2 separate regions of the Homo sapiens genome follow, and region 1 is linked to region 2. The links come from fine-mapping of genetic effects on gene expression. Tissue or cell type: whole blood. Region 2 holds a variant in brackets; the other region holds the start of a gene. All regions are shown on one strand. Distances are from middle to middle.

Region 1 (5,000 bases), 22 kb after region 2:
ACAGCTGACCTGACAGCTGCAGAGGCCCCTGCGGGCGGTGTGCTGAGCCAGGTGGGACCCGTCCCACCACTAAGCTCTCAGGAAAGGCCTTGAGCAAAGGCAAGTCTCCATTGGCTTCAGGGGGTTTTCCCCAGGCCGTGTGTGTTTGCCCGCATGTTTTCTCTGCTGGTGCCCTGCCCCGCCCCACCTCTGGTGGAAGCTGCTGGTATGTCCCCCTCACCCCCTACCTTGGGCCCCAGAGACACTTATTTTTGATTCTGGAAGCAGGAGTTGCTGAGGAGTCTGGATTATTTTAAACTCCAGTGAAGGGAAAACCCATTGTCACCTGAGGCCGTCTGCCCTGGCGGAAGCGGGGGCTTGCCGAGGGCCAAGATGGTTCTGTGCCTTGTGGATCCAGTGTGCACCTGCGGCTTCCTCAGCGAGCAGTAGACACGGGGAGGGCTGGAGTTTGCTTCTGGCCCCCTGAGGACAGGGTTCAGGCAGAGGCCTCAGGCAGGAGTCTTCAGGGACTGCCAGCCAACCTCACAGAAGCTGGAGAAAAGATCAGGTGGCCCTACAGCAAGTACCTAACCTTTTTGGCGCCTGGGACAGGTTTCACGGAGGACAGTTTTTCCGTGTTGGGGAGGAAGGTTTCGGGATGAAACTATTCCACCTCAGTTCATCAGGCATTAGATTCTCACCAGAGCGCAATCCAGATCCAAGTGCGCAGCTCACAGTAGGGTTCACGCTCCTATGGGAATCTGATGCCCAGGCTGATCTGAAAGTGGGTGGAGCTCGGGCAATCATGCTCCCTCACCTCGTCCTGTGCTGCCCGGTTCCTAACGGGCCACAAGCTGGTACTGGTCTGCACCTGGGGGTTGGGGACCCCTGCCCTATAGGACTGGCCTTGGTATACCCAGCTCAGGAAACAGAGCCCAGTGACTTCCTAGTTTCTCAGCCAGAGAGGCCCAGGCCCTGGACCCCAGAGCAAGCCAGGAGAGGGGGCAGAGGCGACTTAGGCCCGGACAGGTAGCCCAGGCCGCCAGGATCACGGGTCCTCCCCATGCTTGCTTCAAGAGTCCTGGAGTTTGTGATGCTGCACCTTAGCGAGACCCGAGCCATAGTTCTCCAGTTGCTTCTGCCTGTAGCAGTGCAGGGCCAGGAGGGGACACAGGAGGCCTTGCGTCACTACTGCATGGGGCCAAAGGGGGCCCGAGGGTGGCCCAGCACGGGCAGCATGGCTGCCGCCAGGAAGACCCAGAACGTGGAGGGGGTGCCAGGCTCCTGCCTAGACTCCAAGCCTGGTGTCCATGGGGCTGGCGGGTCAGCACTTCGGGCACAGCGGGGAGGCTGCATAGGCACCGCAGGCCCCATCTCTGGGCAGCTGTGGGAGACACACAGCTACCGGGAGGTGGACAGAGGCCAGCAAAGACCAGTGTGGGGCTCAGTGGTCCCCAGGCCTGGGCCGGGGCAGGCCCTTGGAGCCGTGGAGTCCTGAGGCCTGGAGTCGGGGGACCCAGGGAGCAGCCTCTGTTGGGGGCTGGTCTTCCCAAGAAGATCCCAGCCCCTCTTCGGGACAGAAGTGATGGGGCATCCTGGGGTGAGGAAGCTCCAGCTCCGGGATGAAGGGCGCCCCGTGCTCCCGGGCAGAGCAGCCGCAGGAAGAGGGGCCTGGAGGCCATGCTCCCGCGGGCCGCGGAATCCAACGCGGCCCGGCCGGCGACAGACACTACTGCCTTGTAGGAGAAGGACCTGCCCGGGGAGCCACCTGCACTCGGCTCACACTCCGCTCCCAGGACCCCCAGGTCCCTGCCCAGGCCACCCTCGGGTGGGCGCGGTCCGCGGGGCTGGACCCGCCCGAGCCGCCCTGACCTCAGGCCTCCGACGCTCCGCGCAAGAAGACAGAGTGCGCCCCGGCCCGCAGTCTGGGGTGTGGACACACGGCCAGGACGCGGACGGCGGGGCCTCGGCAGCAGCGCGGGGAAACAGCGGACCCCCAGCCCTGCGGGGAAAGGAAACCCCCCGCCCACTCGGCGCAGATCCCGCCTCACGCAGCAACTGCGCAGGCGCAGCCGATGATCCTCCGCGCACTCCCCAGCCTTTGTGCGCGTGCGCCTCACGTGACGTCACCGCCGCGCGGGGGCGCGCAGTCACCCTTCGGTCGCCAGGGGGCGCGGCCCCCCGCTCTCTCGCCGCTGACGGCGCATGCGTGCGCCCAGCTCCGCCTTTGCCTCCAAGGCTTTGCTGGCTTGTGCGGCATCCTGCTCCGTCTGCAGGTTGTGCTTCCGGTGCGGAGGTCAGGGACAAGATGGTGCCACCGGTGCAGGTCTCTCCGCTCATCAAGGTGATCCAGGCTTTGCAGCCGCCGCCCAGTGCTCTGGGCCCCCCCGTGTCCCGCCCCGCAGCTCCGACCCCGCGGGCTGCGACCCCCGGCCCCCGCCCCCATGATCCTCGCCCCGTGACCCTCGCCCGGCGACCGGACCCCCACCCCTCCTGCGACCTCTGCCCAGCGACCCCGCCCCCCCTCCTCCCGCGACCCCCGTCCCGCGAGCCCCGTTTCGCGCCGCCTCTGACCAACCTCTTTCGCAGCTCGGCCGCTACTCCGCCCTGTTCCTCGGTGTGGCCTACGGAGCCACGCGCTACAGTGAGTGACCGCGGGCGGGGCCGGGGCGGGGTCTGCTCGGCTTTCCTGTGGAGCTCCTGTGCTATTTGGAGAACTCCAGCTCTGGAAGGGGGCTTGGGACGCATGCGAGGCTGCAGGACCGTGTCCTCCACCGAGCGTGACCCCGATAGTGGAATCAGCTCACCCAAAGCTCAGGCTTCTGAGGCCCGGGCGGGGGACTCGAAAACGGCTGCTTCTTGGTGAAAACGGGTGCTAAATGGCTGTTCGAGTGCTGAGGTCTTGATGGGAGGCAGTCCCTGTTCGCAGAGGACGAGTGAGCCAGTGCGTGAGCGGGTGGGCAGCAGGGGCCCTGTAGCCTCTGGGTTGGACTCGTCAGGGTGAAGGTCAGGCGTTGACTCGCATTAACATAAAGAGCGGGAACAGCAGGTGCGTCTGGTTTACAGCGTCGCTGAAGATACCTTGACCTGTGGACTCAGTTCCTTTTGTACAGCATTTCCAGTGAATTTTATTCTCCTGCATTCCGCCAAACAGATTACCTAAAACCTCGGGCAGAAGAGGAGAGGAGGATAGCAGCAGAAGAGAAGAAGAAGCAGGATGAACTGAAACGGATTGCCAGAGAATTGGCAGAAGGTACGAGTGACACTGGCTCTTATAGATTGTCCCTCCCAGGTTTGTGCAGGGATAAGGAAAATGGAGGAGGACATTTAAGCAGAGCTAAGTAGATGCGGATTGTTTAAAAATGGGGAAGCTGGCCAGGCGTGGTGGCTCATGCCTGTATCCCAGCACTTTGGGAGGCCAAGGCGGGCAGATCACCTGAGGTTAGGAGTTCAAGACCAGCCTGACCAACATGGTGCAACCCTGTCTCTACAAAAATTAGCCGGGCATGGCCCGGTGCGGTGGCTCATGCCTGTAATCCTAGCACTTTGGGAGGCTGAGACAGGCAGATTGCCTGAGCTCTGGAGTTCGAGACCAGCCTGGGCAAGATGGTGAAACCCCATTTCTACTAAAATACAAAAAATCAGCCGGGCATGGTGGCAGGCACCTGTAATCCCAGCTACTCAGAAAGCTGAGGCATGAGAATTGCTTGAACCCGGGAGGCGGAGGTTGCAGTGAGCTGAGATCACGCCACTGCACTCCAGCCTGAGCAGCAAAGTGAAATTCTGTCTAAAAAAAATTAGCCAGGCATGATGGCGGGTGCATGTAATCCCAGCTACTCAGAAGGCTGAGGTGGGAGAATCGCTTTAACCTGGGATGCAGAGGTTGCAGTGAGCTGAGATTGCGCCATTGGGTGACAGAGCGAGACTCCGTCTCAAAACAAAAAAAAAAAAAAAAAAAATAACTGGGAAGCTGAAGTGGTCTTTTTAGGTTGCCTGAGTGGTAACATGTGCTTTTCTTCTAACCTTCCGGCCCAAGATGACAGCATATTAAAGTGAGTGACCCTGCGACCCACTCTTTGGACCAGCAGCGGATGAATAAAGCTTCCTGTGTTGTGTGATACTCCGGCTCCTCATTTGCTGTCGCTGGTTGTGGAATTCCTAGGTTGAAGTTCTGTCCACCTCCCAGTTCACGTGAGGTGGAAGACAGGGAGGGGGTTTCAAAAGAATCCACATTACCATTCACAGACCCAGAATGCATCATGTAAACACAGTGGGAAGGACAGATGCGCGCTGCCTGTTCTGTCTGGGGCATCCAGGTGGGGAGCCCCAAAGGCCGTCTGTAATGGAGTCAGTCAGCTGGGGGCCTCATGAGTACTGGGGTTGTCTTGATTCTGAGTTCTAGGCTGCTGCTCTCAGCAGCCCAGACCCCTGGATGGGGAGGGGTAGGCACTGACTGACGCCCTTACAGTTGGGAAGCTGGGTCCTCCTCCACAATAACCCCTCGCCCCAACCTGCCATTTCACAAATCCTCCCTTTGATCCCAGGAAGTGGCCAGGTCAGACTTGGGACTAAAAGTCTGGTGATGTGACCTCCTGAGCACAGGGCCTGAGTGCTGTTTGAGTTGTGCAGGGAGGTGGTCTTGTGGTGCCTGAGCCACTTCCCTCCCCAGCAGGCTTCCTGGGCTTCTCGCCCCTCCTGGCTGTGAGCTTGCCAACAACCCAAACCCTTGGCCTGGTGGTTTGCAATGGACAGATTGAATTTGCTACTTCCCAGTTATGTGCCTTGAGCAAATCTAGGCTTGGAGCCCCAGTTTGTAAAATGAGTTCGTTTGCAAATATAAGGCCAAAGGGAGAAGCAGCCTATAAGCTTTTCAGGACATTTGGTTAAGGTGAGCTTTGAGTGAGCAAGATACTTTCACATCCTGTCCTGGCGTCCAGAGGGGCTGTTTGCAGGATCCCTCAGAACCTCTTAAGAGCCCCTCATCCCAGACCCAGGCTCTGGATACCAGGGGTCTCTGACCA
Region 2 (5,636 bases):
GCAGGAGAATTGCTTGAACTCAGGAGGCAGAGGTTGCAGTGAGCCAAGATAGTGCCACTGCACTCCAGCCTGGGCGACAGAGCGAGACTCCATCTCAAAAAAAAAAAAAAAAAAGATTGCCGCCCTCGCTTGCTGCTTGTGCCGCCTGCCCACCTCAGGCGCCCTTCAGTCTCCTTCCACTTCTCCCTCCAGACGCCAGGCCCCTCTGGGAGCCGGAAGTGCCCGCAGGTGCCCTGCAGAGGAGGCCTCATGGGAGTTTGTTGGGTGAACGCATCAGTGAATGCCTGTTTCAATCAACCAGGTGGAAATCTTGGAAATAAAATTTATAGTCCTGGACACACACGAAAACCAGTCCATGAGGTAATTCACAAACCAGTTGAAGAGCTTGGTGTGGCTGTAAGTGACGCTGCTGAGGACAGGGAGGCAGGGAAGCAGTGGAAGCGCAGGGGAGCCAGGCAGGGCTGAAATCGCAGACGTGATGATCTCACAAGAGCAGAGGAAGAGAGAGTCGTGAGGAGCTTCAGACTTGAGGACTAACCTGACTCTGCAGGTGGAGACGCAAACACCGTGCTAGGAACATGCTCGGACGCCTGGTAGGATGCCGGATATGGGGAGGCAGGACGCCCACAAAAGAGTCAGAAGAACCAGACCCTGAGCAGCTGGCACATCACCAACAACTGAACCCAAGTATCATTTAACCATCGCCGGAGAAATAATTCCAGCCGTTCACCTGTGTGTGTGTGTGTGTGTGTGTGTGTGTGTGTGTGTGTAGTTTTTTGTTTTGTTTTGTTTGTTTTCAGACGGAGTCTCGCTCTTGTCCCCCAGGCTTGAGTGCAGTGGCGCGATCTCGGCTCACTGCAACCTCCGCCTCCCGGGCTCAAGTGATTCTCCTGCCTCAGCCTCCTGAGTAGCTGGGATTACAGGCATGTGCCACCATGTCCGGCTAATTTTTTGTATTTTTAGTAGAGACGGAGTTTAATTTTGTATTTTTAATAGAGACGGGGTTTCACCATGTTGGTTGGGCGGGTCTCGAACTCCTGACCTCAGGTGATCCGCCTGCCTCAGCCTCTCAAAGTGCTGGGATTACAGGCGTGAACCACCGCGCCCGGCCTGTGTGTGCGTGTTTTTACACAAAACTAAAACTCAGCAATGACCACCAGAAAGCTGCGTGTGGTGTGGTGAGCAGGGAGCACGCTCTAAAGCCCCGGCCTGCTCAGAAGAGCCTGGAGACACTGCATGGACTTGGCCTATCTTGGAATAATGTGCAGTTAACTGTGTAGGTTAAACATCGAATGTCAACGGCCAGGCACGGTGGCTCGCGCCTGTAATCCCAGCACTTTGGGAGGCTGATGCAGGCGGATCACTTGAGGTCAGGAGTTTTGAGACCTGGCCAACATGGCAAAACCGTCTCTACTAAAAATACAAAAATTAGGCGGACGTGGTGGCACATGCCTATAATCCCAGTTACTTGGGAGGCTGAGGCAGGAGAATCCTTTGAACCCGGGAGGCGGAGATTGCAGTGAGCCGAGGTCGTACCACTGCACTCTAGCCTGGGCGAGAGAGGGAGACTCTGTCTCAAACAAACTAACTAACTAACCAATATAGAACACACCGCACAAAGAGCATCCAGTGTGGACTTCAGGATGGACTTCGGTTAAGAAGATCGTGTCGATATCGGTTCATCAATCCTAACAAAAGTACCAAACTCATGCGAGATGTAGATAACAGGGAAGTGGAGTGCAGGGTTTGGGGGAGAGAGGGGTATATGGGAACGCCGTACTTTCTGATAGATTTTTCTGTAAATCTAAAATTGCTCTGAAACATAAAGTCTAATAATTTTAAAAAGCAAATAAATGTAGCCAAAGAGTGCAAAACTAATATTCTGAAAGCTACAACTACAAACCATGACCAAAAGAATCTAAAGAAGGTCTAAGTAAATGGAAAGATGTCCTGCGTCCGTGGTGGGAAGACAATATTGTTAAGGTGTCTCCAACCTAATCATTCAACACAATCCATATCAAAGTCCTAATGAGCTTTTTTCAGAAATTGACAAGCTGATCCTAAAATTTATATGGAAATTCAGGGGACTCAGAATAGCCAAAACAACCTTAAAAAGAACAAAATTGGTTGGGTGCAGTGGCTCACGCCTGTAATCCCAGTACTTTCGGAGGCCGAGGCAGGTGGATCACCTGAGGTCAGGAGTTCCAGACCAGCCTGGTCAACATGGTGAAACCCCGTCTCTACTAAAAATACAAATATTAGCCAGACGTGGTGGCAGGCGCCTGTAATCCCAGCTACTCGGGAGGCTGAGGCAGAAGAATCGCTTGAACCCAGGAGGTGGAGGTTGCAGTGAGCTGAGATCGCGCCACTGCACTCCAGCCTGGGCAACAGAAGGAGCTCCATCTCAAAAAGAAAAACAAAACAAAAACAAAAAACAAAGATAGATGCTCATTTCCAACATATTCAATAAAAATTTGATAACATACACAAAGTAGTTATGCCACACTATACACAAAATGTTAGATATCAGTCATACCCACAGAGAAATTAGACACATACACTACACACAGGCATGTGCGCGCGCACACACACACACACACAATACCTACCTGCCAAAAGACAGGCAAAAACATTAAATACCCATCTCAAAGTTTTTTTTTAAATTTTATTTTGAGACGGAATCTCGCTCTGTCGCCCAGGCTGGAGTGCAGTGGTGCGATCTCCACTCACACTGCAAGCTCCACCTCCCAGGTTCACGCCATTCTCTTGCTTCAGCCTCCTGAGTAGCTGGGACTACAGGCTAATTTTTTGTATTTTTAGTAGAGATGGGGTTTCACCGTGTTAGTCAGGATGGCCTCGATCTCCTGACCTCGTCATCTGCCCGCCTCAGCCTCCCAAAGTACTGGGATTACAGGCGTGAGCCACCACGCCTGGCATTTTTTTTTTTTTTTTTTGAGACAGAGTCTTGCTCTATTGCCCAGGCTGGAGTGCAATGGCACGATCTTGGCTCATGCAACCTCCGCCTCCCAGGTTCAAGCGATTCTCCTGCCTCAGCCTCCCGAGTAGCTGGGATTACAGGTGCCTGCCACCACGCC[C/T]GGCTGATTTTTTGTATTTTTAGTAGAGATGGGGTTTCACTGTGTTAGCTAAGATGGTCTTGATCTCCTGACCTCGTGATCCATCCGCCCGCCTCGGCCTCCCAAAGTGCTGGGATTATAGGCGTGAGCCACCGCGCCCAGCCTCCATCTCACAGTCTTAAAGCAGGTTAGACCCTATTGGGAGGCAATTTTCCACACCTCATGTTTCTCCACGGTCCAGGTCCTCAGAGTCACTGAAACCACGTTAAGAATGTTTGTCCAGGCTGTGCAAGGTGGCTCACGCCTGTAATCCCAGCACTTTGGGAGGCTGAGGCGGGTGGATCACTTGAGGTCAGGAGTTCAAGACCAGCCTCGCCAACACGGTGAAACCCCGTCTCTAGGACAAAGACCTCCTCCACCCCTACAACGCCTCCCACCTACCTCTGTCCCTGGAGAAGGCTTACTTACACACCAGAGAAGAGACCAGGTTTGTCTCTCTGGAAGCGAGGATGAGGAGGCCCCCAGCAGCCACATAAAGGAAAAAAGAGTTTCAGCCGGGTGCGGTGGCTCACAGCTATAATCCCAGCACTTTGAGAGGCCAAGGCGGGTGGATCACAGGGTCAGGAGTTCGAGACCAGCCTGGCCGACATGGTGAAACCCCATCTCTACTAATAATACAAAAATTACTGGGTGTAGTGGCACGCGCCTATAATCCCAGCTACTCAGGAGGCTGAGGCAGGAGAATCGCTTGAACCCGGGACGGGGAGGTTGCAGTGAGCCGAGCCTGTGCCATTGCACTCCAGCCTGGGCGACAGAGCAAGACTCCGTCTGAAAAAACAAAAAAGGATAAGAGAGTTTCCTAAACTTGGGGTTCTTCCCCAACATGCACCTGCTGCCTGTCCAAGTTCCACCCACATCGTCCCGTCCACCCACGGGAACTGATGTTTCCCGTGTCCACGTATGTGTGAAATTGGCTGGCTAGCTTGTTAGCTTGTGAGCAGAGCAAAGTCTCAGGCACTTCAAGTCTCTGATTTAACACATGTTCATTTTATAACACACACACACACACACACACACACACACACAAACTCATTTCACACCATGTAGATAAGAAAGTAGATACCTGATCACACAATGTACAAAATATTAGTTAACTATTTAAACCCTACACACACACACACACACACACAAAAATTCTTCTTCACCTTCTTTTTTTTTTTTTTGAGACGAGAGCCTCACTCTGTCACTCAGGCTGGAGTGCAGTGGCAAGATCTCAGTTCACTGCAACCTCCGCCTCCCCAGTTCAAACGATTCTCCTGCCTCAGCCTTGTTTGAAATGCTTGTTCCCCGGTGCTGTAAAGAAATAGCACTGGAACATAAATTTAATTTACTCAACAAGGCCATTTCTTACTTTCTGCAGAAAGGGCACACTCGCCAGCAGTTTTGCCGTGAAGGTACACCGAACAAAGGAGACAGGGTCATTTATAACCTGACGCGTCCCCCCGACTGCTGTGTCTGGTTTCCATTGGCTGGAACGGGACCTCACATTCTGTATTGGTCGCGATTGGCTAGCAACTTAGAACTTTTCAAAAGAGGCAAAGGCAGAGGAGAACAAAGGAAGGAGGAAGTAATTTGTGGAATGCTGAGAAAGGTAAAAACACCTTCAAATAAGGAAGAGGAACAGACTGTGACCTAATGCTTGCTGGGACCAGTATAAGTATGCCAGGGCAAATATTTAGGCTAACTTGTGGGAGCTAAGAAAAAAAAGTACATTCATTTATTTATTATGGCTAGCAGATATTTAAGAATGTTAGCACAGGTCTTTGAATAAATTTTGCTTCTAAGAGAAGTTACTATTTATTCCTAATTAGATGGGGAGGAAAGTTTTTGAAGAGGAAGCTCTACTTAACTTTTTACAGCCTCCCAAGTAGCTGGGATTACAGGCACGCACCACCCCGCCTGGCTAATTTTTTGTATTTTTAGTAGAGATGGGGTTTCACCATGTTGGCCAGGCTAGTCTCAAACTCCTGACCTCGAGTGATCCACCCGCTTCGGCCTCCCAGAGTGCTGGGATTATAGGCATGAGCCACTGCGCCCAGCCCACAGCTTGGTTTATACATTTTAAATAGGCATGAGACATCGATCAATACATGTAACATGTACATTGGTTCAGTCTGGTAAGGCTGAACAACATGAGGAGGTGGAGGGCTTCAGGTCACAGGTAGATTTAAAGATTTTCTGATTGGCCATTGGTGAAGGACTTACTATCTAAAGACCTGGAATCAAACAGAAAGGAATCCCTGGGTTAAGATGAGAGGTTGTAGAGAGCAAGGTTTATTGCAGATGAAGCCTCCAGGGAGAAGACTTGGGAGAGAATAGATGGTAAATGCTTATCAGACTCAAGGAGACTGAAGGTCTCTGTGTTGATGTTTGTGAGGCTGCTCTGATTCCCATTTCCCCTCATGGCCTGAAGCAGTTTTTCAGGATAATTTGGAATGTTGTTGGCCAAGGGGAGGGTCCATCCTTTGGTTGGGGGCTTAGAATTTTAATTTTCATTTACAC

Evidence for each region. PIP is the estimated chance that this variant, and not a neighbour inherited with it, causes the effect.
Region 1: MYL5 starts here. The variant in region 2 is fine-mapped to the expression of MYL5 in whole blood (TOPMed, PIP above 0.99).

The regions. Positions count from the first base shown.
Region 1 is chr4:671,535-676,534 of GRCh38, reverse strand. It overlaps MYL5 (myosin light chain 5), which reads right to left and starts at 1,993. Exons shown (of 9, transcript NM_002477.2): 1 at 1,852-1,993; 2 at 326-462. ATP5ME (ATP synthase membrane subunit e) reads left to right here and starts at 2,259. Exons shown (of 4, transcript NM_007100.4): 1 at 2,259-2,323; 2 at 2,569-2,623; 3 at 3,134-3,232; 4 at 4,016-4,099. The coding sequence starts at 2,288. The coding sequence ends at 4,035. RefSeq lists enhancers at 1,423-1,492, 1,370-2,127 and a silencer at 1,703-1,972.
Region 2 is chr4:693,656-699,291 of GRCh38, reverse strand. No RefSeq gene overlaps it. Among named protein-coding and RNA genes, the nearest start is that of SLC49A3, 7.3 kb to the right of the region's middle. RefSeq lists enhancers at 3,963-4,463, 5,571-5,636. The variant C/T (reference allele first, on the strand shown) is at 3,096.